7 linked regions of the Homo sapiens genome follow. The protein of the gene in region 4 interacts with the protein of the main gene of each other region in a pairwise test. Each region holds a gene or a part of one and is shown on either strand. Other genes may lie near its edges.

Evidence for each region.
Region 1: the proteins of PEF1 (region 4) and FAM168A interact in binary tests that used the Homo sapiens proteins (3 or more experiments, as listed by UniProt).
Region 2: the proteins of PEF1 (region 4) and STH interact in binary tests that used the Homo sapiens proteins (3 or more experiments, as listed by UniProt).
Region 3: the proteins of PEF1 (region 4) and SEC24A interact in binary tests that used the Homo sapiens proteins (3 or more experiments, as listed by UniProt).
Region 5: the proteins of PEF1 (region 4) and EWSR1 interact in binary tests that used the Homo sapiens proteins (3 or more experiments, as listed by UniProt).
Region 6: the proteins of PEF1 (region 4) and HEMK1 interact in binary tests that used the Homo sapiens proteins (3 or more experiments, as listed by UniProt).
Region 7: the proteins of PEF1 (region 4) and SMUG1 interact in binary tests that used the Homo sapiens proteins (3 or more experiments, as listed by UniProt).

The regions. Positions count from the first base shown.
Region 1 is NC_000011.10:73,413,113-73,416,612, forward strand, and holds part of FAM168A (protein FAM168A), read right to left. Parts: intron 1-3,500.
Region 2 is NC_000017.11:45,997,836-46,000,194, reverse strand, and holds STH (saitohin), read right to left. Parts: upstream 946-2,359; 5' UTR 916-945; coding exon 529-915; 3' UTR 501-528; downstream 1-500.
Region 3 is NC_000005.10:134,662,285-134,665,784, reverse strand, and holds part of SEC24A (protein transport protein Sec24A), read right to left. Parts: intron 1-3,500. UniProt on the Homo sapiens protein: Component of the coat protein complex II (COPII) which promotes the formation of transport vesicles from the endoplasmic reticulum (ER).
Region 4 is NC_000001.11:31,629,366-31,632,121, forward strand, and holds the end of PEF1 (peflin), read right to left. Parts: intron 1,478-2,756; coding exon 1,248-1,477; 3' UTR 501-1,247; downstream 1-500. UniProt on the Homo sapiens protein: Calcium-binding protein that acts as an adapter that bridges unrelated proteins or stabilizes weak protein-protein complexes in response to calcium.
Region 5 is NC_000022.11:29,295,768-29,299,267, reverse strand, and holds part of EWSR1 (RNA-binding protein EWS), read right to left. Parts: intron 3,030-3,500; coding exon 2,900-3,029; intron 1,442-2,899; coding exon 1,319-1,441; intron 536-1,318; coding exon 373-535; intron 74-372; coding exon of another isoform or gene 35-73; coding exon 1-34. UniProt on the Homo sapiens protein: Binds to ssRNA containing the consensus sequence 5'-AGGUAA-3'. Might normally function as a transcriptional repressor. EWS-fusion-proteins (EFPS) may play a role in the tumorigenic process.
Region 6 is NC_000003.12:50,583,022-50,586,521, reverse strand, and holds part of HEMK1 (MTRF1L release factor glutamine methyltransferase), read right to left. Parts: 3' UTR 2,488-3,500; coding exon of another isoform or gene 2,472-2,487; 3' UTR 1-2,471. UniProt on the Homo sapiens protein: N5-glutamine methyltransferase responsible for the methylation of the glutamine residue in the universally conserved GGQ motif of the mitochondrial translation release factors MTRF1, MTRF1L, MRPL58/ICT1 and MTRFR.
Region 7 is NC_000012.12:54,179,866-54,182,925, forward strand, and holds the end of SMUG1 (single-strand selective monofunctional uracil DNA glycosylase), read right to left. Parts: intron 2,759-3,060; coding exon 2,231-2,758; 3' UTR 1,783-2,230; coding exon of another isoform or gene 1,654-1,782; 3' UTR 501-1,653; downstream 1-500.

The sequences.
Region 1 (3,500 bases), on a different chromosome or scaffold from region 4:
ACATGGTCACAAATCTTTCTCAGTCCACATCACACCTCTTTGGCTTAGCACCCCCCTGCCCCTGATGACTCAGGAGGATAGGAGAGCTGCTGCACAGCTGCCACAAAAGTCAGCCTGTTCCTGGATTCACGTCATTTATTTTTTCACCTGCAGATCCATAGTTTTTTCCATAGTTTTGTGATCAAATATGCTTGGGAAATAAGTAACAATGAGGATAGAATGGAAAGTACATATGAAAGAGAGGGAAGCATGTTAAAGAGAAGTAGAAACTAACTGGAAGTGCAACTATGAGCTGAGTGAGAAGTCTAGAGCAGATTTCTCAAAGTTTCTAGATTATGGAGCTAATGATGAAATGTGGTCATAGGAGGAGAAGCAGATACTGTGGGGGAAGACAGGGAGACTAGCTTTGCAGATGTCTAGAAGGAACCATCTGATGTGTACGGAGACACAATTTACTTATCTATAAAATAAAGGGGTTTTATAGATAAACCAGAGATAGACATTTCCCAAATGTGGACAACGTACTATAGATCCCAAGGGATCTTAATAGTTGTTTTTGCCAAAGAAAAGGAAACAAAAGAGTTCTATAGTCCCATATGTAAAATAGAGATAAACAGTTAAGATTTTGTTTTTATTCCATGACCCTGAGAAGTTTTTAAAACAATAGGATGGGCTGGATGTGATGGCTCTCACCTATAATCCCAGCACTTTGGGAGGCCAAGGCAGGAGAAGCACTTGAGACCAGGAGTTTAACACCAGCCTGGGTAACACAGACAGACTACATCTCTAAAAAAAGAAAAAAACTTAGCCAGGCATGGTGGCTGGTGTAGTCCCCAGCTACTTGGGAGGCTGAGGCATGAGGATGGCTTGAGCCCAGGAGTCTAAGGCTGTTGTGAGCCATGATCACAACACTGTACTTCAGCCTGGGTGACAGAGCAGGACCCTGTCTCTTAAAGAAGGTGGGGAGGTGAACTGTGAATCTCTAAGATGGGAGTATGTACAAGACTGTATTTTCCAAATTAATTTTACCACAGAATCTTTTATTCATACTATAAACATTTAAAACAATTAAATTTCAGCCATGTTTTTTGTAATTGAAGCTAGTTTTGGTAAACAAAGTTATATTGTAACACATCCACATCCATTCATTTACATATTGACTAAGGCTACTTTCCTGCTACAATGGTAGTCACTGACAGAGAGCATATGGCCTTTTTAAAAGCCTAAATATTTGGCCCTTTACAGGAATGTTTGCTGACCCCTAATTTAAAGGAATATATCAAGGTGTAGAGAAACCTAGCAGAGCTGAAAGCATCCCTTTTCTATGCAGGAGAGTAGGACACCCCTGAATCAGAAGGTGCCTGTTTCTGAAAGCTCTGTAGCACAGAGCCATGGTTATGAGCAGTCTGGAGACAGACTGACTGCCTGGGTCCAAACCCCCAGCTCTGAGACTTAATAGCTATAGGATACATCAGTCTCGCGTGTGATATGGGAACAGTAATGGTACCTACTTCATTGTGATAAATACATTAACTGTTAAGTAAAAAGCACTTAGAACAGTACCTGACATATTAGAAGCACTTTATAAAGATCAGCTATTATTATTTTCTCTCTCACTTTATAGGGACAGTAAGCTTCTGTCCTAAGGGTATGCAGGCAGAGCCTGGTCTGAGAGACTAAAGCTAATCTATGACTACTATGGTCTGTCCCAGCTTGGAACACAGACTCCAGGATTCTAAGATTCTAAAATGTTATGGCTTAAAATGCCATGATTTTATGATTCTTTAAAGTTAACAGGCCAAAGATGCTGATGACTTTCCTTTATGCTCCTGGAGAATGTGCTCTGGAATTTTTCTCTTCCCTGGGGAAGCTGGATTACCCACTGTATGCCACAAGGACAGCCATATTACAAAGTGGTGAGACTATCCCTCTGAGGAAAATCAAAAAGCTCCAAGAGACTGCAGTAGAATTTGGTTCCCACATCTAAGAATAACCTTGTCTGAGAATGTTTCCCTTTCTTCATGTTATGAAATGAGACACACACATACTCAGAATACAAATCAGTAGCCAAAACACCCTTGGCAGCCAAAGAGATGATGCTGCAGAAGAAGGCCTTGCTTGTTTGTCCAGACAGTCTGAGATAGAAGCAGAACTGCAGAGCTAGAAGACTCAGAGATCATTAAGACCAACGTAAACATTTCACAGATGAGATAATGAGTAGTTGCTGAAAGAGAGAGCTGTTTGTGGGGATCTAAGACTCAGTGCTACTTCCTCTAACCACAGTGGTTCTCAAGGTTACCATTTGTCAGGAGGATCTTCATGAGGCTGGAGAAACTGCCTGGGGGCCCTCATCCTAGGTTCTGTCAGTAAGTCAGGTCAATTCCTCTCAGGGAATATCCTCATTTGGACTAGACAGTATCAGAGAACTTCTCTAGTGCTGACATTCTAGGTCTCTGAGTATTTCAGAAGACTTTCATGAGGAAATCATTTCAGAGGACTTTCCATAATTTACTAGTGGTCCTGTCAATACTCTTGAGGAACACTGAAAATTCCCCTGGAGCTATAGCCTGAGCTTGGGTGACACAAAAATCAGGGTTTATTACTTTATGCATCTAAGTAAAAGAAGCTGTTGGGCTTGTTGCAAAAAAGTCTCACAGATTTTGCCCAAATGAACTTAGACTCAGTTCACTCACTGGAGGCCTGGCTATCCTGAAAGGAATTCTAAGTCTGAAGGTCACAGAATTAAGACTTTGGAATGTTGTGCCTGAAGGACATTAGAGGTTTATATTCAACCTCCTCCTTTTCCGAGAAAGAACCTGGAGCCCAGAAGGACAGATTTTCCCCAAATTGTACAGCACATCAGTACACAGCTAGGCCCAAAGTTCAGGGCTCACCCTGCCCTAGGCAGAGCTCTTGCTGAGTTAAAGTCTCTGTAGTCCAATCTTGGGCATTTAATATACTGGCCTTTGTTGTCCCCATTTCACTAAAGGCAATATCATGAAAGAAAAAATGAATTAGATCACTCGAAGTCCCAGCTCTGCCTTATAAAAGAGGCTTTGTTTATGATGTCCTATTCTTTCTCTTAGGTTCCTAACCATAATTTTAGAATCAAATGGGATAATAAAAAGAGTATGTACATTAACAAGATAAAACCTTTTCAGCGCTTTCTGCAATCCTTTTTCACTGTCATAAATCTTTTTCAGTTGTAGAAGCCCTACCACCTTCAAAGGCTTGATCCTTGCATCACGGATGCCTTTTAGACTAATTGGTTTATTGATCATCAGATTTATATGTCTGGACAAAATAAAGCTCTATGTCTGAATCTTGCTTTGACCCCTAAGACTCCTTGTTGGTAGCCAAGTGAGACAGTGATGAATCAGCAGGAGACCTAATTACAAACAGGCTTAGCAAGTATCAGTGAAATTGAACTGAATTTGTCAAAGTGCCCTGAATTTTCTGTGGTACTAGAAGCCACAAAATCTGAATGCTGGGAGGAATCT
Region 2 (2,359 bases), on a different chromosome or scaffold from region 4:
ACGTGACTTGGCTCCTGCTCTTTTCCCTTTGGTGTTAGCATCTGTTCCGGCACGGTTGAGGGATTCTTCAGACTCCGCCAGCTTTGCCTCTTTTGTAGCCAAACATTTATTGAGCACTTACTGCATACTGGGTACTACATGAGGCCACAGGGACCCAAAGGTCTCAGCAAAAGCTCGTGGAGCCTTCAGGCCAGTCCAGGAGGAGGAGGCCTGACACCCTTCAGCGGGTCATTTTAAAGGCTCTTGTGCATGGACCCTGTATGACATTTTTCTTTTTCTTTTTTCCTGGAGATTCATGTGTTGGTCTTTGTTATGGCTGAGGTTTAGTTTCAGACAATTTTTCTAGGCTTTCCTGGCATTTAAGGGAGGCTGTGACTGTGTCCTCTGCCACTTTTCCACACTTCGTCCCCCAAAATATCTCAAGAAAAGTCAAGTCACCCTTTCTCCTTTAACCCTTTAGTAGATTTGGACGTGCTGCCTCCACCCAGCATGGTGACGTCATAACCTGGGGCTCCCATCTGCCCCTTTCTACACTTGGCATGAGGTCGCCTGACTCTCACCCCTCATGGGCAGAGGCAGGGCAGCTGCAGGGTGGGAGGGACAGTTCTGGCCCTGAAAGGGGCCTTCAATGGAAAGTTGTCTTCCCTGCTCAGCCCCATTCCTGCTGCTCTCTTCAGAGCTGTAAGAACTGGGCCAAATGGTGCCCACACCTTCCAAGCCAACCTCAGATGAACTCAGGGTCAACAGGGAAGCTACTTCCCATGCTAAGCTGAGGGTTCTGTCTCTGGCAACCTGAATCATCCACTCACACAGAGGCTGAGTTAAATTAACCCCGCATTCAATGAGGGCCGGCCACCTGCACAGTCTTGTGGGGGCTGCAAAAATGCATGAGACTTGGCCTCCACCCTCACTCATGGCCCAGACTAGGGAGCAGCAGACACATGCTCAGTGTGGTCAGAGTTTACAGGGGCTTTAAGAAGAGAGAGGGGAATCCAGGAAGACTTCCTGGAGGAGATGGCAACTGAACTTGGATTTAAGGGAAGGGAAGAGATAAGGAGAGAAGGACATTCCCCACCATGGGACACAGGGCAGGGTATGGCAGAACCCAGGGGCCCCCAGAGGTGCATGGGCGGGGAACCCCAGACGGGGAGCAGCAGATTCAGGCTAGGGGGAAGGGAGCACCTTGTGGGTGCTGCTTGTTATGTGACTTGAGGAGATCCTGGATGGCAGTCTGGGTGCTGGAGCAGGATGGGGGTGCATGGGTGGGCAATGGGAGAAAAGGCAGGAAAGGCCAGTGAGGGCCCCTCTGGGGTCTTGGGCAGCACCAAGGCCAGGCACCCTGGAGAATGAAAGTCACGGTGGTCCCAAGATGGGGCTTCTGGAGGCGACTTTCGAGAACCGAATGAGGACTGGAAAGTCTGGAGACGAGGGAGCGCATTGTCCCCAGTGGAAGCGCAGGACAGTTTCCCTCAGCTGCGGTACAGGACAGAGGCCCTGGGTCACCTGTGAGTTATTTCCCCAAGGTCTCTAACCAGGCCACTGTGGTGGATGAGGGTCCAGAGAGCCTCTTCCACTACAAGCTCCACATGCCTGAGCAGGAAAAGGCCGGACCTTAATTTAACCCGGATCGTTTGCCATCAGGAGGGAGATTCTGAGATGTTCTCTTCCTTCCCTCCCTCCTGTGTTCCAGGGAGCTCTGCCCTTGTCCCCACAGCCACAGGGGAGCCACTGTCTGTCCTTTCCTCGATGAGAGGAGGTGCTCTGGGGCACAGCCGAGTCTTCTCCACCTCTGTGCACCGCCTGGCACGCAGGGACTCTCAAAAGAGGCCTGATGCACAGAGGCAGGGTCTACACATGCGTCCCTTTTAACCCGACCGTCCATTTCCATCCCGATGGGATGTGACACTGCACTCACAAGCTTGTTCGGGGGCAGGGGGGATCCTGGGTGGGGGGAGGTGGCAGGGTTTGAGGCAAGGTGCCCATGTGCACTGGTGGCCACCCTCCGTCCAAATGCCCCAGGCTCAGACCCAAGTGATAAGAACTTCAATGGTGTGGAGAGCGCCTGCGTGGGGGAGGCAAGCTGACACGCAGGCCCAGGGTTCCAGAAAGCCCCCTAGCTCCCCGAGGCCCAGTGCCCAGAAGGCCCAGCACATCTGCAGCCTCAGAGTGAGCTGTGGTCCTTCTCACCCCCAGCCTCCTCTTCACCCTTCCCCAGCTCCCCAGTGCTGGGTGGCGGGAGCGGGGTCCTGGGCTGAATTGTGGTCCCCGCAAATTCACATGTTGAAGCCCTAACCCCCCTCCCCAACACCCCCGTACCTTAGAATGTGACTCTATTTGGAGACAGGGCCTTTAGAGAGGT
Region 3 (3,500 bases), on a different chromosome or scaffold from region 4:
AGGAGTTCAAGACAAGCCTGCCAACATGGTGAAACCCCATCTCTACTAAAAATACAAAAAATTAGCCAGGTGTGGTGGTGGGCACCTGTAATCCCAGCTACTTGGGAAGCTGAGGCAGGAGAATCACTTGAACCTGCGAGGCAGAGGTTGCAATGAGCTGAGATCTCGTCACTGCACTCCAGCCTGGGCAACAAGAGCGAGACTCTGTCTCAAAATAAATAAATAAATAAATAAAAATAAAAATAGGGGGCCAGGAGCAGTGGTTCATGTCTATAATACCAGGACTTTGGGAGACCGAGGCAGAAGGAACACTTTTTTTTTTTTTTTCTGAGACGAAGTCTCACTCTTGTCCCCCAGGCTGGAGTGCAATGGCGCAATCTCGGCTCACTGCAACCTCCGCCTCCTGGGTTCAAGCGATTCTCCTGCCTCAGCCTCCGGCAGCAGCTGGGTCCACAAGTGCGCGCCACCACGCCCGGCTAATTTTTGTATTTTTAGTAGAGATGGGGTTTCACCATATTGGCCAGGCTGGAGGCTGATCTCAAACTCCTGACCTCGTAATCCACCCGCCTCGGCCTCTCAAAGTGCTGGAATTACAGTCGTGAGCCACCACGCTCAGCCTGAAATTTTTCAAAATGTTTCACCAATACTGTTAAATACTCCAGTATCAAGTTGAAAAATTGCCTATTAGGCTGGGTGCAGTGGCTCACGCCTGTAATCCCAGCACTTTGGGAGGCTGAGACAGGTGGATCACAAGGTCAGGAGTTTGGGACCAGCCTGGCCTATATGGTGAAACCCCGTTTCTACTAAAAATACAAAAAATTAGCTGGGCGTGGTGGCGCATGCCTGTAATCCCAGCTACTAGGGAGGCTGAGGCAGAAGAACTGCTTGAACCTGGGAGGCGGAGGTTGCAGTGAGCCGAGATTGCGCCACTGCACTCTAGCCTGGGCGACAGAGTAAGGCTCCGTCTCAAAAAAAAAAAAAAAAAAAAAAAAGAAAAAGAAAAATTGCCTATTACTGAATCTTACAACTGCTAACAAGACTATCAGTGCCTTGTTGACAAAAGTGAAGACAAAGATTATTGCCATGTAACTCCCTTATCAAAGAAGTGGTCACACATATCTATGGCAGTATAGACAAGTCAAAGGAACAAAGGGGCAAGGTACATGGCCAACTCAGCATGAACAAGAATGTAAAATACATCTGGCCACAAAGATGTAACCTACAACCTAATGTTTAACGAATAAAAGTAAACTTACAGAGATTTTCACAGCTTTTAGAAGACTATTTTTGAACAGATAATCATATATTTCATAAAATGAACATTTTTTCAAGTTGAAGAATTCTTATTTACGACACTGATAGCTAGAGTTTCAGAGTCTGCCCTCTCAGCCCCTAAATGAGTATAATGATGCTTAAAGGTGACCTATTAAAAAAATTCAGGAAAATTTAATATATGAACTAAAAACTTAGTATAACCTAAATACTCACAGCTTTGATACCAGACTATCAGGTACCAACTCTCAGTTATGAGTTGGAAAAAAGAAAAAAAATGAGGAATTTGAAGGTTCTTTGAAGGTTCAAATGAGAAAAAAGAAGGTTACTTTTTAGGTTCATTTTATTAGTTTATATGTTTTTATTTCCCCTTCTTTCATAAGTTTCAGCACTTTTTTTTTTTGAGATGGAGTCTTGCTCTGTCGCCCAGACTGAAGGTAGTGGTGCAATCTCAGCTCACTGCAACCTCCGCCTCCCAGCTTCAAGCGCTTCTCCTGCCTCAGCCTCCTGAGTAGCTGGGATTACAGGCACGTGCCACCATACTTGGCTAATTTTTGTATTTTTAGTAGACACGAGGTTTTCACCATGTAGGCCAGGCTGGTCTCGAACTCCTGCCCTCAGGTGATCCACCCGACTCAGCCTCCCAAAGTGCTGGGCTTACAGGCGTGAGCCACCATGCCCAGCCTCAGCACTTATTTATGTCTCTCTCACCAAATCTGTAGTGGAGACAAGGTGCTCTGAGGGTTTCTATTATAGCTAAAGAAATTTCAGATTATTGATAATGTACCTTTTTAAGAGAAGCTACACCTACTCTTAGTATTTATTTATTTTTAAATAAAATTATTTAAAAAAATAGAGATGGGGTCTTGCTATTTTGCTCAGGCTAGTGAACTCCTGGCCTCCTGGCCTCAAGTGGATCCTCCTGCCTTGGACTCCCAAAGTGCTAGGATTATAGGCGTGAGCCACCACGCCTGGCCCTTAAATAGTTTTTAAATAAATGTTTTCCCAAACTATTTTACTGTGGCTTTGGGCAAATTATTCAAGTCTTATACTTTAGATCTGTAAGAGACTGTTACGAAGATTAAACAAGATAATGCAGGCCTGGCTAGGTGGCTCACACCTGTAATCCCAGAACTTTAGGAAATCCAGGCAGCAGGATGGCTTGAGGTCAGCAGTTACAGCAAGCTATGTTGCAGTTAAGTGAGCTATGATCGTGTTACCCTACTCTACCCTGGGCGACAGGGTAAGACCCTGTCTATACAAAAAAATAAAGAACAAAAGATTAGCCAGGCACTGTGGCACGCCTACTCAGGGAGGTGAGGCGGGAGGATAGCTTGAGCCCAGCAGTTTGATGACACTAGGATTGCACCACTGCACTCCAGCTTGGGAAACAGAGAGACAGCCTATCTCTAAAAAATAAAAAGCAAAACAGAAAAACAGATAATGATATCAAAGTTTGATAGAGCCTGGAAAATAATATAGATAACATTTTTTTTAACACTTAAATTTTTTTTTTAGACCAAGTCTCACTCTGTCACCTAGGCCGGAGCGCAGTGGCACAATCATAGCTCACTGCAGCCTCAATTGCCAGAGCTCAAGCAATTCTCCCACCTCAGCCCCCCGAGTAGCTGGGACCACACATTCATTCATTCAAGTGATTGATGTGTGCCACCATATTCATTCATTTCAAGTGATTGATGCTCACTCATGGTATCAAATGAATTAGAACAAAAGTAACATGAAGGATTTTAGCTCTACTAATTGCAGGTCAGAAGATTTCCACAAAGAAACTTAAGTTTCTAGAAGCAGCTTTAATCTTTACAAGGCCAAAATGCATTCACCAGGGCCAATGTCTGATCAAAGGCTTGGAAAAATAAAGTTTCAGCCATTAACAATTTACAAGCCTGATGGAGTATATGCCATATAAACATACATAAGGTTAAAAAGGTAACTATTGATATTACTATTTCACTTGGAAGCCTACACTATTTCATAAACTTGAGGCTGTCTGCTGAGAAGTATCAACCTGCAGATCCCAATACAGAATTTTAAATGCTTTTCAAAGAAATATTGGCTCACACCTGTAATCACAGCACTTTGGGAGGTCAAGGCGGGCGGATCACGAGGTCAGGAGATCGAGACCATCCTGGCTAACACGGTGAAACCCCGTCTCTACTAAAAATACAAAAAATTAGCCGGGCGTGGTGGCGGGCACCTGTAGTCCCAGC
Region 4 (2,756 bases):
CTAGAATGTCTGGTGTCTTTGGCTTTTGATTGAAATGTGGTCAGCTCATTAGAGACACTCGGTGTAGACTGGGTATTATGCTGATCTAAAGATCTGACTTGCAAGTACAGATGTCTGTGCTTAATAAAAGTGGGGAGAACGTTATGACTTAATAAATGGAGTTTGTCTGGAAGATAAAACTAGGGCCTGAGAAAATAGAAAAGGCCAGGCTATGAAGTTTGAGGTAGCTGCTTTCAACCCAGAATGCCAGCCCTAAAACTGCTATGAAATAGCTTCCTAAATAGACCTTCAGGCCATACTGAACTGAACCCGGCAGGCCCCTCAGCTGGCTACCCTATACTTCAACTTCCCTCTGGCAGTGGAGAGGAGCCCCACATAGGCAATGTCCCCCCAAGCTGCTGCTTTCTGCATGGCGTGGTGTATAGGATGTACTTAAATAGTCACTGAAAGGATGAGTGGATGGACCTGTAGCTGAGAAATCATGGTGGAAAACATGGAACTCCAGAGTTTCATCCTTTTATTGAAGCTTACAATTTCACTGGACTTTTGGCCCCAAATGAAAAAAAATGCAAATTAAAAAAAGTATTGGCAGGGAGAGGTGACCACTGTCTCCTGGAGACTGAAGCCGAGCAGAGCATGGCAGGCAAGTGAGGGGTCCCAGCTGCAGAGGGCAGAAGCCTGGCCAAAGATGCCCAGGGAGCAGATTTGTCTGAGCAGGGCCAGCCCCAGGCAGCTAGAAGTTAACACACAAGGATTTATGGGTGTGGCAGAATCCAAGCCACTGGTCCCATAGACAGATCTCTCTCATGCTTGGTCAGATTCCACTTTGGAGAAAATGGGCTCGTTTGACAGGATGGCCTGGTGAGGGAACACAGGTACTAACGGTAACAGGCCGATGAACACTCACCACTGGCATCAGGGTGGAGCTCAGCTGACTGGACACTAACTCCATTACAAGGACCTGCTCCTGGTGCCAGGCTGTGCCACTCAACTGCTCATGGCCATCAGGACATTCAACTTCTATCCTCTCCTCCATCAGGCCCCTATCTGTGTGGCCTCAGCCCCGGTCCTCACTATTTGGTGGCTATGATGCAGGACTCTCCACCCTCTTTTGGAACAGTGTTGCATCAAGCAAGGGAGAATGTTCTTCTAGAGGGACAGGAAAAGAAGAGATGTCCACATACTTCTCTCACTCTAAGAAGCCAGGAAAGGTCCCTGGTGCACTCCACTCTCCACAGATGGTTGGGTCATAGCATCCGAGAAGCTGTCATGGTGACGAAGTCCTCGAAGCTGAGCCGAATGTTGCCTTGTACAGCTGTGTCCTTCTCCCGGAAGGCCTCTGTCAGCACCTGCAGCTGGGTGCACACCTGGATGAAGCGGTCAAGCTGCATGGCAGGATTGGCAGAGCGTGGGCAGTAGCGGGAGACCAGAAGCTGGGTGAACTGGGGGCTCAGGTTGTAGCCCATTTGGGACAGAGCTGGAGAAGAGGGGCACACAGACCAGACACACAAAAACCTGCCATGAGCACCTCCATCAATCAGGAATACTGGATCACAACAGTTCAAGGAACTTCGAGAGGATGGGCACAGAAGCACAAAGAGGGTAGAGAAATCCCAAGGGTCTGTCTAAGATGTCAGAAACACAACAGGGACCGTGTCTGGATGCTCCCCTTAGGTGGAAGGCCCTCATCCCTCTTTCTCCAAATCTCCATTATTGTCTCTTCAACTGAGGCTCAGGGGATTGCAGAGACGACAACGGACTATCCGCAATCATCTCTGATTCGTTTGCATTCCAAAAGGAAGCCTGAGCTCCCAGGACCACCTTGCCTGGGGCAGACATCAGAGGCAGTACAGCAGAGGTATGAGGACCTGCTCTGGAGTCAGCCACTGGGCAAGTTGCTTAGCCTCACTATCCCTATCTTATCATCTCTAAAATGGGGATAATACTTAACTTGTAGGTTCTAGTAAGGATTAAAACGGGTGATCATGTAAAGCACTTAGCACAGTGACTGGCACAGAAAAAGCACTTGGTAAATGCTATTTTAATAAAGTCACTGTCACTCCAAGGTCTCTTGGAGCATCCTGTCTCTTCACTGGGATGCTTCCTTCCTTCCTCTGTTCAGAACTTACCAGGCCAGGCTAAAACCTCAGCTCTCCATTTGTTATGCGGGCCCTTGGGCAGGTTACCTACACTAAACCTCAGTTTTCTCACCGGTAAAAGGGAGATTATAAGGGATTCTTCATTGAAGGGTGTGGAATTATAAATAGTACCTAGCACATGGGAAGAATGAATTACATAAGCCTATTAAAAATAGCAAGCATTCAGTAAATACGTTTTGTTGTGGTTAATATCACCCTTACTAATATCCACGACAAAAGCTGGCAAGAGTAGGTGATTACTATAGGTCATCTCCCCTCCCTTTTACTGGGGGCAGATGTGGTGCACTCACTCCTGCCCACAGACCTCCTTAGTCTGAATGAAATCCACAGCCTGGGCAAAGGACTAGACTCTCTGGGGAGCCCTTTCTCCCTCCTGGGTGGCAAAGCTCCCTCTTGGGTCCTCCCCCAACCTCTTACTAACCTGCCTGAGCCCAAACTGTGGCCTTCTGCCTTACACAGTCAGTTTGGAACCAGACCTGGGGCTGTGGCCTCAGGTCATCTTCCCCAACTGCAACTTTTAGAGTGCTCAGGGTCCCAAAAGTTGGGAAAGAAACTGTCCACTAGCAGAGGTGGCAACAGACCCATCTTTCTGAGCCC
Region 5 (3,500 bases), on a different chromosome or scaffold from region 4:
TGTTCTCCAGGCGAAGTTCTGGTTTCCACAACCCCTGCATACAATTACATCACAGCAGAAATCACCAATTGAACTAAGGAAGATAAACAAGGAAAGGTGGTGTGTGAACAGGTACACACTCACTATCAAGAGGATCTATGTACACCCATGCTTTAGGGCACAGCCTCAGGCAGCATTGCACCCACAGGACAGGTCAAATCAATCTTCAGAAGGCTCTGAAGCGTCCAGTGAATGGCTGACTAGTGTCCCTAACCAGCCATCAGGGTCATCATTCTGTTCCTCTAGACAGAGCAATCCACTCTAGAGTGGGGATGGGGTGAGGGAAGGGTGGCTTCACTCGTAGGGTATCAATTTGCCAAGACAAGTACATACGGATTGGGACACTGCCAGTCTCCAGCTCGGTGCTGGACGTTTCCTCCTCCAGAGGGGTTCCCTCGGGAACCCCGGGGTCCTCTTGGAGGGAAGCCTCCTCTATCTCCTCCACGGCCTCCCATGCGACCCATGGGTCCCCCAGGACCTCCTGGGCCTCCTGGACCTACAACAAGAACAACAAGAAACAGCAAATCATTTCTCTGTAGCACCAAATTTGCTATAGGAAATAAAAATCACTAAGTAAACCCACAGATACTACTGCTGTCATTTCCCCATCACCTGTCCCGTGTTTCCGTGTGGCTCAGGCCATCAGCCCCCTTCCCTGTGAGGAGCGTGTTCCACGTGCTCTACAGAAACAGAGCTCCCACAATTTTTTTTTTTTTTTTTTGGAGACGGAGTCTCACACTGTTGCCCAGGCTGGAGTGCAGTGGCACGATCTTTGCTCACTGCAACCTCCACCCCCCCAGATTCAAACAATTCTCCTGCCTCAGCCTCCCGAGTAGCTGGGATTACAGGCATGCACCACCATACCCGGCTAATTTTTGTATTTTTAGTAGAGAGGGAGTTTCACCACGTTGGCCAGGCTGGTCTTAAACTCCTGACCTCAGGTGATCCGCCCACCTCAGCCTCCCAAAGTGCTGGGATTACAGGCGTGAGCCACTGCACCTGGCTGAACTCCCACAATTCTGTAAGGAATAGGCATGTCTATACAGACACAACCAAAGCTGAATAAATGGCAGTCTGGAGTTGACAGGCAGAGTGGCTTCCAGCCTCCCATGTTCTTCTCTTCCTTTTATTCCCAACAAACATTCATTGTTAGCTCTCGATAGTCTAGTATTGACTCTACACACAATTTTATATTTCTTCACTCTAATAATCAAGTTTCTCAAGGGTATGAAGTGTACTGAAAACCTTTTAATGCAACATAGGAGCTCAGAAAAAGTACCTCCACGGAGTGGTGGTGGCATGCCTCTGCCCTCACGGGGTGGCAGACCACCCCGCATACTGTTCATTGGAGGCTTCTTCCGAGCAAGGGAGACTTTAAGTTTGCTCCCTTGAAAATCTTTCCCTGGAACAAGACAACAGAACATCAATTACTCCCCTGTACTCCCTGTTCACCAACTCCACATCATCATCAAATGACCACTCCCAGATGCATTAGGTCTGCCTGTAATCTTCTCTAAGATCTTTAATGACAAGGCCAGAAAAAGGCTTTTTTTGAGATGGGAGTCTCACTCTGTTGCCCGGGCTGGAGTGCAGTGGCACAGCTCACTGCAGTTTCAATCTCACTTGCTCAAGCAATCCTCCCAAGTAGCTGGGACTACAGGCACGCATCACCATGCCCGACTAATTTTACAAAATTGTTTGTAGAGGCAGTGTCTCACTAGGTTGCCCAGGCTGCTAGTGAACTCCTTGGTTCAAACAATCCTCCTGCCTTGGCCTCCTGAAGTGGTAGGATTATAGGCAAGAGCCACTGTGCCTGGCCAGAAAAAGGCCATACTTAAATACACTTAAAAACCTTCCTACAGCCTGACCAACATGGTGAAACCCCATCTCTACTAAAAAATACAAAAGTTAGGCTCAGCGTGGTGACATGCGCCTGTAGTCCAGCAGCTACTCGAGTGGCTGACGCACAAGATTGGCTTGAACCTGGGAGGTGGAGGTTGCAGTAAGCTGAGATGGCTTGTGTCACTGCACTCCAGCCTGGGTGACAAAGTGAGACCATCTCAAAAAAAACAACACAAGCAAAAAACACTGTCTACCATAAGGAGGAAAATAAGCTGGTGGGAAGCTGACTGCATGACCAAGAAAACAGAACCAGGACTTGTTATTTGACACTTTCTTTGAGACAGAGTCTTGCTCCGTTGCCCAGGTTGGAGTGCAGTGGTGCAATCTCAGCTCACTGGAGCTTCAAACTCTCCGGGCTCAAGTGATCCTCCCACCTCAGCCTCCTGAGTGGCTGGTACTATAGGTATAGGAGTGTGCCACAACACCTGGCTAATTTTTGTATTTTTTTTGTAGAGACAGGGTTTTGCCATGTTCCCCAGGCTGGTCTCAAGCCCCTGGATTCAAGCAATGCACCGATGTTGGCCTCCCAAAGTGCTGGGATTACAGGTGCAAGCCACTGGACATGGCCAAGTCATTCAATGCTTTCAAGTTGGTTTTGTCTGAAGTGAAATCCCACCATTAATGTCAAGGCCTCATTTAAATATATATATTTATCTATATGCAAATGTACACTGGCTAAGATGTTCTTTTGAAGGGTTTTCTGTACCTTCTGATAATCTGTGCTTAGGAAGTGTTTGCCACTTTAAGCAAGGTTGATTTGTAATACTAATGCCTCAAAATAAAGGGATCTCCAAATCCAGGGTCAATGGCTGGGTGCTACTACTACTGCAGGGAGACCGGCCATCTACCTCCCCCAGGAAGAGATGGAAGGTCTTCTTGCTCCTATGGTTCACAAGTTTCTCCCTCATGCCATATTCTATAGCCAGGGAGATTAAGAATGCCAGTGAGTACATCTCACCATCAAACCATTCCACGGCAGCCTTGGCAGTGGGTGGGTCTTCATAGGACACTGTGGCATCGCCTTTGGGCTTTCCTGTTTCCTTGTCCAGGTAGATGTGGATCATGGGTTGCCCAGTTCTCTTGTTCATCTAGACAAAGAATAGCATAGTTAGGCATGACTAGAATATACTAATTTGGGAGAAAAAAGTCCAGGCAAAATCCAGGAAAAGTACCAATTTCTCACATGTAGTAAGTCACTAAATGTCACCGTTTCTCCGCTTTTAAGTTTTTCAGAATTCTAAGTTATTTTCTCCTCTATCCCTGCTTTATCATAAAAACCAAAGTAGACCAAAGTGTGGAAGTGAACAGGATAGGCCCCACTCCTGCCTTAGCCATCTTCTGATGCTGGTTTGCCTGCCCTGGCATTTTCTATGCCCAGACAGGTATCCACTGAGCACAGCCACCTCGTAGGGGTAGTCAGACTTTGATACCACCACATAAGACATGACTGGCATAAAGAAAATTATCCTTAAACCGTGAAGGACAGTGTACAGGCTGTGAGTGAACTACAGGGATTCTTGGTTAGTCTAACACAGCCACTACTTCCTCCAGTTAGAACA
Region 6 (3,500 bases), on a different chromosome or scaffold from region 4:
AGTGTTTGGGGAAGACCCCAGCCCCTGGGAAGGGGGCCACTTAGCCAGGCCTGCCTGCCACGGGGCATGGCTACTCTAAGCTGTCTCACCCTCCCCCTTTAGGCATAGCTGGGGCAGGTGGAGGTCAGCCCAGTTCAGGGCTTTCCATGAAGCTGAGGTAGGCTTCCCTGCCTTTCCCACTTTGTGAGCTGTAAAATTAGCCTTTCCTGACCATTTTCCTGCAGGACTGCTGTATGTGTGAGAGGTAGTCTTTGGAAGAAAAGGGGCCTCTAGAATTTGAAGCTTCTGATTTCTGGTTATGAGGCCAAAGATCCCAAAGGTCCTTCCAGACACCTCAGGAGGGCCCTGGGGGGCAGAGGCTGGGGGCTGTACAGCCAATTACCTCAGAGGGGAAGGCACCCACTCATTCCGCAAGCGGGGGAAATCCTGCTCTCCTCCCACAGCTACCAGAGCTTCAGATGGGACTCAGATCTGTCTGCACACCCAGGGCTACAGTTGGCCTAATGTGACTCTTACCTGCCCATAAACCTGGCCCAGAGGGCTTTATGGGCCAGAATCCCTGGGTTTAGTAGCTACATGGACAGCCATATGAGCACCACCTAATTGACTTAATTAACTAACCCCAGGCCTTTGGAAGCAATAGGAGATGAGAGCATCATACTGGGAGTCAGGAGTCAAGTGCTGTGTTACTTCAAGTAAGCCCCATCCCTCTCTGGGAAAAAAGATCAGGGATTGAATATAAGTCTTGCCATGATCCACCCCTTCCAGTATAAACAGGCCCTCCTGGCTTCATCCAAAGCGTATCCAGGTGATTTGGGGCCAAGCTGACCCTTGAACCCAGGTGTCCATGCTCTCTGTCCCCCAGCTTCTCAGCTCTGAAACCCAGCATGAGGCCCATGTCTGGCCTCCCAGTAGCTCTCCATGTGGCTCCTGGGTTAGGACTGGCTTCAGGAGCCCCAAGCCTTGGCTGGGTGGGATGGTGTCTCCAGAGTCCTTTAGTACCCCTGGAAAGGGAGGTCCTAGTCCCAGCTTGGACAGGGACAGGGCTGAGGGCACCAGTTGGCCAATTCAGTTTTAGGAACCAGGAGGTTGAGAACCCCAGGGATAGCCCCACTCCACCATAGGAACAGAATGGTGACACAGCTCTGCTCAGGCCTATGGCTTACATGGAGGGGCCAGGCCCATTAGCTCAAAGTCAGGGGCTGCTGTGCTCATTTCACAGATGCAGTACCTGCAACCCAGAGAGTACAGGGCCCCTGCTCATCCTCACACACCCAAGGGGTCCTGGGCCAGTCACATAACTCCACAGGAGAGCAGGAACAGGCTTGGTCCCAGTCTCTGAGGTCCTCTCTGGACCCAGTCTCTGGAGATGGGCCATGGAGGCCAGCCTTGCACTTTCTCCCCACATCCCAGTCCCATTCCTCACCCACTCCCTTCTGGGACCCATGCTGGTCAGTCTTTCAGTCTTCTCACTCTGGGAAAGGGCCACCTCTCTCCAAATATGAGTAAAAAAAGGGGGGGCCTGGGCAGTTTAGGTCTGAAGGTTGAGGAAGAGTTCCCCTGGCCACATCACCTATCAGAAGAGAGGTGGTTAAGGCAATTTATCATGACTCTCAAAATTCTTCCAGCCTCTGCCCATTTCCACGTTGCAATTCCAAAGCCACTTCAATCAGTAGGCGTGTGTTACAGCAGCACTCTAATTTGGGCACCACAATCTATATTCGTTTCCCGTGGCTGCTGTAACAAATTATCACACATGTGTTTTCACACATGTGAAAACAACACAAATTTATGATCTTACTGTTCTGGAGGTCAGCAATCTGAAATCAGTTTCACAGGGCTTAAAATCAAGGTATTGGCAGGACTGCATTCTTCTTGAGGCCCCAGAGGAGAAGAGGCTGTCTGCATTCCTCGGCTCATGGCTCTTCCTCCAGCAATTGCATCACTCTGACCTCTGCTTCCATTGTTACATACATTTTCTTCCGTCACTCTGACACTCCTGCCTCCTTTACAGAGGCCCTTGTGATTATACTCAGTTTACCTGAAAAATCCAGGATACTCCTTCCATCTCAAGATCCTTAATCACATCTGCAAAGTCCATTTTGCTATGTGAAGGTAATATAGTCACATGTTAAGGTTTAGGTGATTAAGACACTGCCATTTTGGGGGGTCACTGTTCAGCCTACCAGAGCAGGGGTAGAGTTGCTTTGACAGTCCCAAATCCAGTTCAGGGGGCTTGTCCAGGGCAGAAGGTCATGAGGAGGAGATCAGGTCACTGTCCTAGCCAGGACTCTGGCTGGGGGCTGGCTGAAGCCAAGAGCTCCAGGAAACCTGGCGCCTGCTCCTACTGCCGCCAAGGACAGCCTGTTCTCCTGGTGTGGCTGTTGCGCAGGGATCAGGTGCACTTGAGTCTTCGAAGTGGCCATTGCTCAACTTGAATGGCTGCCTGGGTCGGGCAGAAGGCCAGGTCCTCATGGCTTCCCATCCCTAATGACCGGAATACATGGGCTGCCAGGTCAGATGTGGGCCACATGGGAAGTCCCAGCTCTATTCTAGAAAATGCATGTACCATCAGCTTACTGATAGACATTTACTGAACTTGGGTATGCCAGATCCACAGGGGGCCCCAGAGATGAGGGGGATAAGAAGGTTTCTGAAGGCATGGTACAGAAGGTGCCAGCAGAGGTATGGGCTAGGGGAGGCAGGGAGAGCACAGAGCAGGCATCCTAAAGGAGGCAGCATTTGTGTTGGAGCTTGAAGAAGTGGATTGTTTGCACCGCCTGGGCAAAGGGAAGGTGTGTGTTCAGGGCATCGAGAGTACTGCACAAAGGCTGAAGCCCAGGGCAGTAGAGAAGAGAATCCACTAAGAAGGAGCCAATGAAGAAAAAAAAGAGAAAAGAATCGAAGGTGGATAGGGAAAGACATGCTGTCCCGCAGAGGTTAAAGGGGTTCTCACCTCAAGCCAGCAGTTCTCAAACCTTGTCAGCAGTGGAGCCCTTTGTTCTGATGACAGCCTACTCAGAGCACTGATGGGGCCTTGGGAGGGGCCCCCAGGGCTTTTCCCACAGTTGTCCTCCCCCACCTCTTCAGAACTGGATTCCATAGGACACAAGAGAACACACTTAAGTCATGGGGAGCCAGCTAAGTGTTTGGGGCAAGGATTGGGAGCAGCCAATAGCCCAGGGTCCAGGTGGGGGTAAAGGAGCAAAAAAGAGTATTTTTTGCATTTAGGGGGTTCGGGGCCTATTTCAATAAGGCAGCTGTATGAGACCCATGGAGAAACCCACTGACAACTGGGAAAAGCATCCAACTGTGAGACAAGGCCTCAGTTTCCCCAACTATCAGAAGAGGAGATAGAATTACTCTCCCAGAGTACATCAAACAGGGACTCCTACACTCCTGTCTATGCTCTGGGCTCTGGCTGAAGGAGGCTGCACGGGCAGTGGGCACATCTCTCAAGACCTCAGGGGCTTGCACAGCCTGGACTCCATCAGCTCCAT
Region 7 (3,060 bases), on a different chromosome or scaffold from region 4:
ATGAAGACAAATATATGGTAGGGTCCAGGAGTGTCCCAGGCACAGATGTGTGCCCTCTGCTCATAGAAACAGGATACCAATGCACATCCCTCAGCACATCCATGTGTTCACCAGCCAGGAAGCTGACCAAAACCTGTGTCAGAAGTTTTTATATCTAGAGTTTTACCATAGATATAATTGGTTAAAATCATCGGCATGTGGCTGAACTCAATCTCTAGCCCCTCTCCCCTCCCTGGGGATCAAGCTGGTATCATCCAGCTCAAAGTCCCAGCCCTGTAACTATATGGTTGGTCATTCTGGCATGGTCAGCCTCCATCCTCAGTCAAATCTTACAGCAAACTCAGGTGTGGTCTGAGATCAAATTCAATATAAAATTAGGTGCAGCCTAAGGTCAAATCTCAACATAAATTCAGGTGTAGTTTCAGGGACCTGCCACGAAAAACAAAGATACTCCTATTACTTGGGAAATTCCAAGGATTTAGAGTCTCCTTCTCAGGAACTGAAGACAAAGGCCAAATTCTTTATTATACAATGAAGTAGGGGAGGATTTATATGAAAAATCTTACTAATTCTGGAAGCTGGAAATGACCTGTGTCCCAGGAGATAGGAAGTAGACCATGTGTTCCTCATTAAGGTGGTCTCAAGACCTGCTCTGCTCCCAACTTGGTTCACTTTCCCAGCCCTTACCAAAGGGGCACCCAGTCAACCATTCAGCAGACATAAAAAATGAGTTGGATACCAGGTTCCCATCTGCCCCATCACCTGTTTCTCACGGTGTCCAGAGTATCATATAAGACCCCTAACAGACACTTAACAGAGACCCTGCAGGTTTGGTAAGGCAATTGGAGATCTGCTACATCCAGCCAGGCAGCAGCACTTTGGGAGGCCAAGACAGGTGGATTACTTGAAGTCAGGAGTTTGAGACCAGCCTGGCCAACATGGTGAAACACTGTCTTTAATAAAAATACAAAAATTAGCCAGGCGTGGTGGCACATGCCTGTAATTCCAGCTATACAGGAGGCTGAGGCAGGAGAATCACTTGAACCGGGAAAGCAGATGTTGCAGTGAACTGAGACCATGCCACTGCACTCCAGCCTGGGCAACAGCATGAGACTCCATCTCAAAAAAAAAAAAAAAAGAGAGATCTACTACATCCTTCCCCCAGCTGCCCAAGAGAACCCCTGGCCAACAATGAAGAGGGAAGAGGGGGGAAATCTAAATGACTACCTTCCACCTCTAGCATGCAAGAGGGGGAAAAAAGTAACAAGACAAAAGGCTTTAGGAGCTCTTAATGCTTAGAGTGAAAAAAAATCACAGGCTAGTTTTTTCATAGTCATTGATCCATCTCTGACATGGCAAGAATTTTCCCTTCACCCTGGCCGCAGGTGGAAGCCCAGACTCTCTCCTAGCAAGGTATCCAGAATGGAGAGGGGCTACCCTTGTAGTGCAGTGCTGTGAATCCTCAACCCAGAGGCAAGAAAACAAGAAGACTATGTAATGAGCACCCACATGCCAAGCCCATGCAAGGCACTTTCAAGTGTGATCTCAGTTAATCCTCACACCAACCCCATAAGGTAGGCATCCCTGTTTTACAGATGAGGAGCCTGAGGCATAGAGAGGTTTATTAATTTGTCAATCAAAAAGTTCCAAGTTTCAAAGCTGGGATGAAAAGCCAGGTCTTCTGACTTGCACTCTGTCACACTGGATTTTTCCTCTGATCCAGCTGCAGCCTCCCATAAGAAGTTCACTCTTAATTTCATGTCCCATGCTTTGTCTTGGTCCCTGTGAGGAAAGGGGTCAGCTAAAGGTAACTGTTCTATAAGGATGGGTAGGTATCCTGGCAAGATATTTCCTCTGAAATAGTAAACGTGACCTTAGAAGTTACTGTCTAGGGCACTCTCAGCTGAATAAAGTCTCCCAAGGAAACACTGAGGTAGAGCAGTCTGCAAGTGCAAAAGCACACCTTCTGCAGATTCCCTACAAAGTGGGGTCCCCTGAAAGGGGCAATGTTAAAAGGTAAAGAAAGCAGGAATCAGGAGGGCAAACAGGAGTAGTGTCAAAACTGCCATGGCAGGTTGGAAGACAGTTCAACAGATCAAAGAATACGTTTCCCAGCGACCAGGGTGCACAGAAGGACCTTTTGCTCCAGTCCAGGAGATGTGTTGTCATCTGCTTGGCCAAGAATGACTTCGAGGTCTTGAATGTGTCCCATGCAAGGCCCCAAGGGCACTCATTTCAACAGCAGTGGCAGCAGCCCCAGCTCATTCAATCTTTCCTTGGCCACTGCCTCCCAGCCCTTGTTGGCCTGTGGGTTACGGGGAGAGGGATGCAGGAGCCCTTCCACCTGGACCTCTGGCATCAGGCCTGCCAGAGCCCGTCGTGCCCGCTGCTCTGCCAGTCGCCCAACTCCCACCACCAGCCGCACCCCCAGCAGCTGCACCTGCCGGCAGAGGGCTGCATCACAGATCCCAAGAAGCTGTTCTCGCTGCTTGGCAGGCAGCTCAGCAGGAGTAAGGTTGCGCCCGCTGGGAGCCAGGAAAAGCAGAGGGCATAGATTGTGGACAAAACAGTGATGGAAGAAGACCTCAGGCTGTCCACAGAGGTTCCGGAAAAAGCCCCAGAATCGGGCACCACTCACTTCTGACTGTGGGCACTCCAGTCCCAGCACTGGTCGTTTAGGATGCTCTTGGGGAGGGGTCAGCACAGGCCCCACAATGCCCAACCAGTCCCGGACCATGCTTACTTCCCCAAAGGGCACCTGTGAGGAAGGAGAGAGACATGAAAGGCTTCAAACTGGAGACCTGAGGCCCGGGCTCTGGACCAACTGACTTCTTTATACCTTACATGAGGATCCAGCCTGCACCCCCTACCCCTACCTTCACCCAAAGGCCTGAGACAAGGATTCTTGGCCCTATGGTTTGAGCCTGTCTGTCTTTTTCCAGTTCTTCATTGTGAACCGTGGTCCAGAAGAATTTGTTTCCCTCTAGCCCAACTAGCCTTTGGGACTAAGTACAGGGACTACATTGAGATATCTAGCCCTACACAGGGTTTGATGGTTAG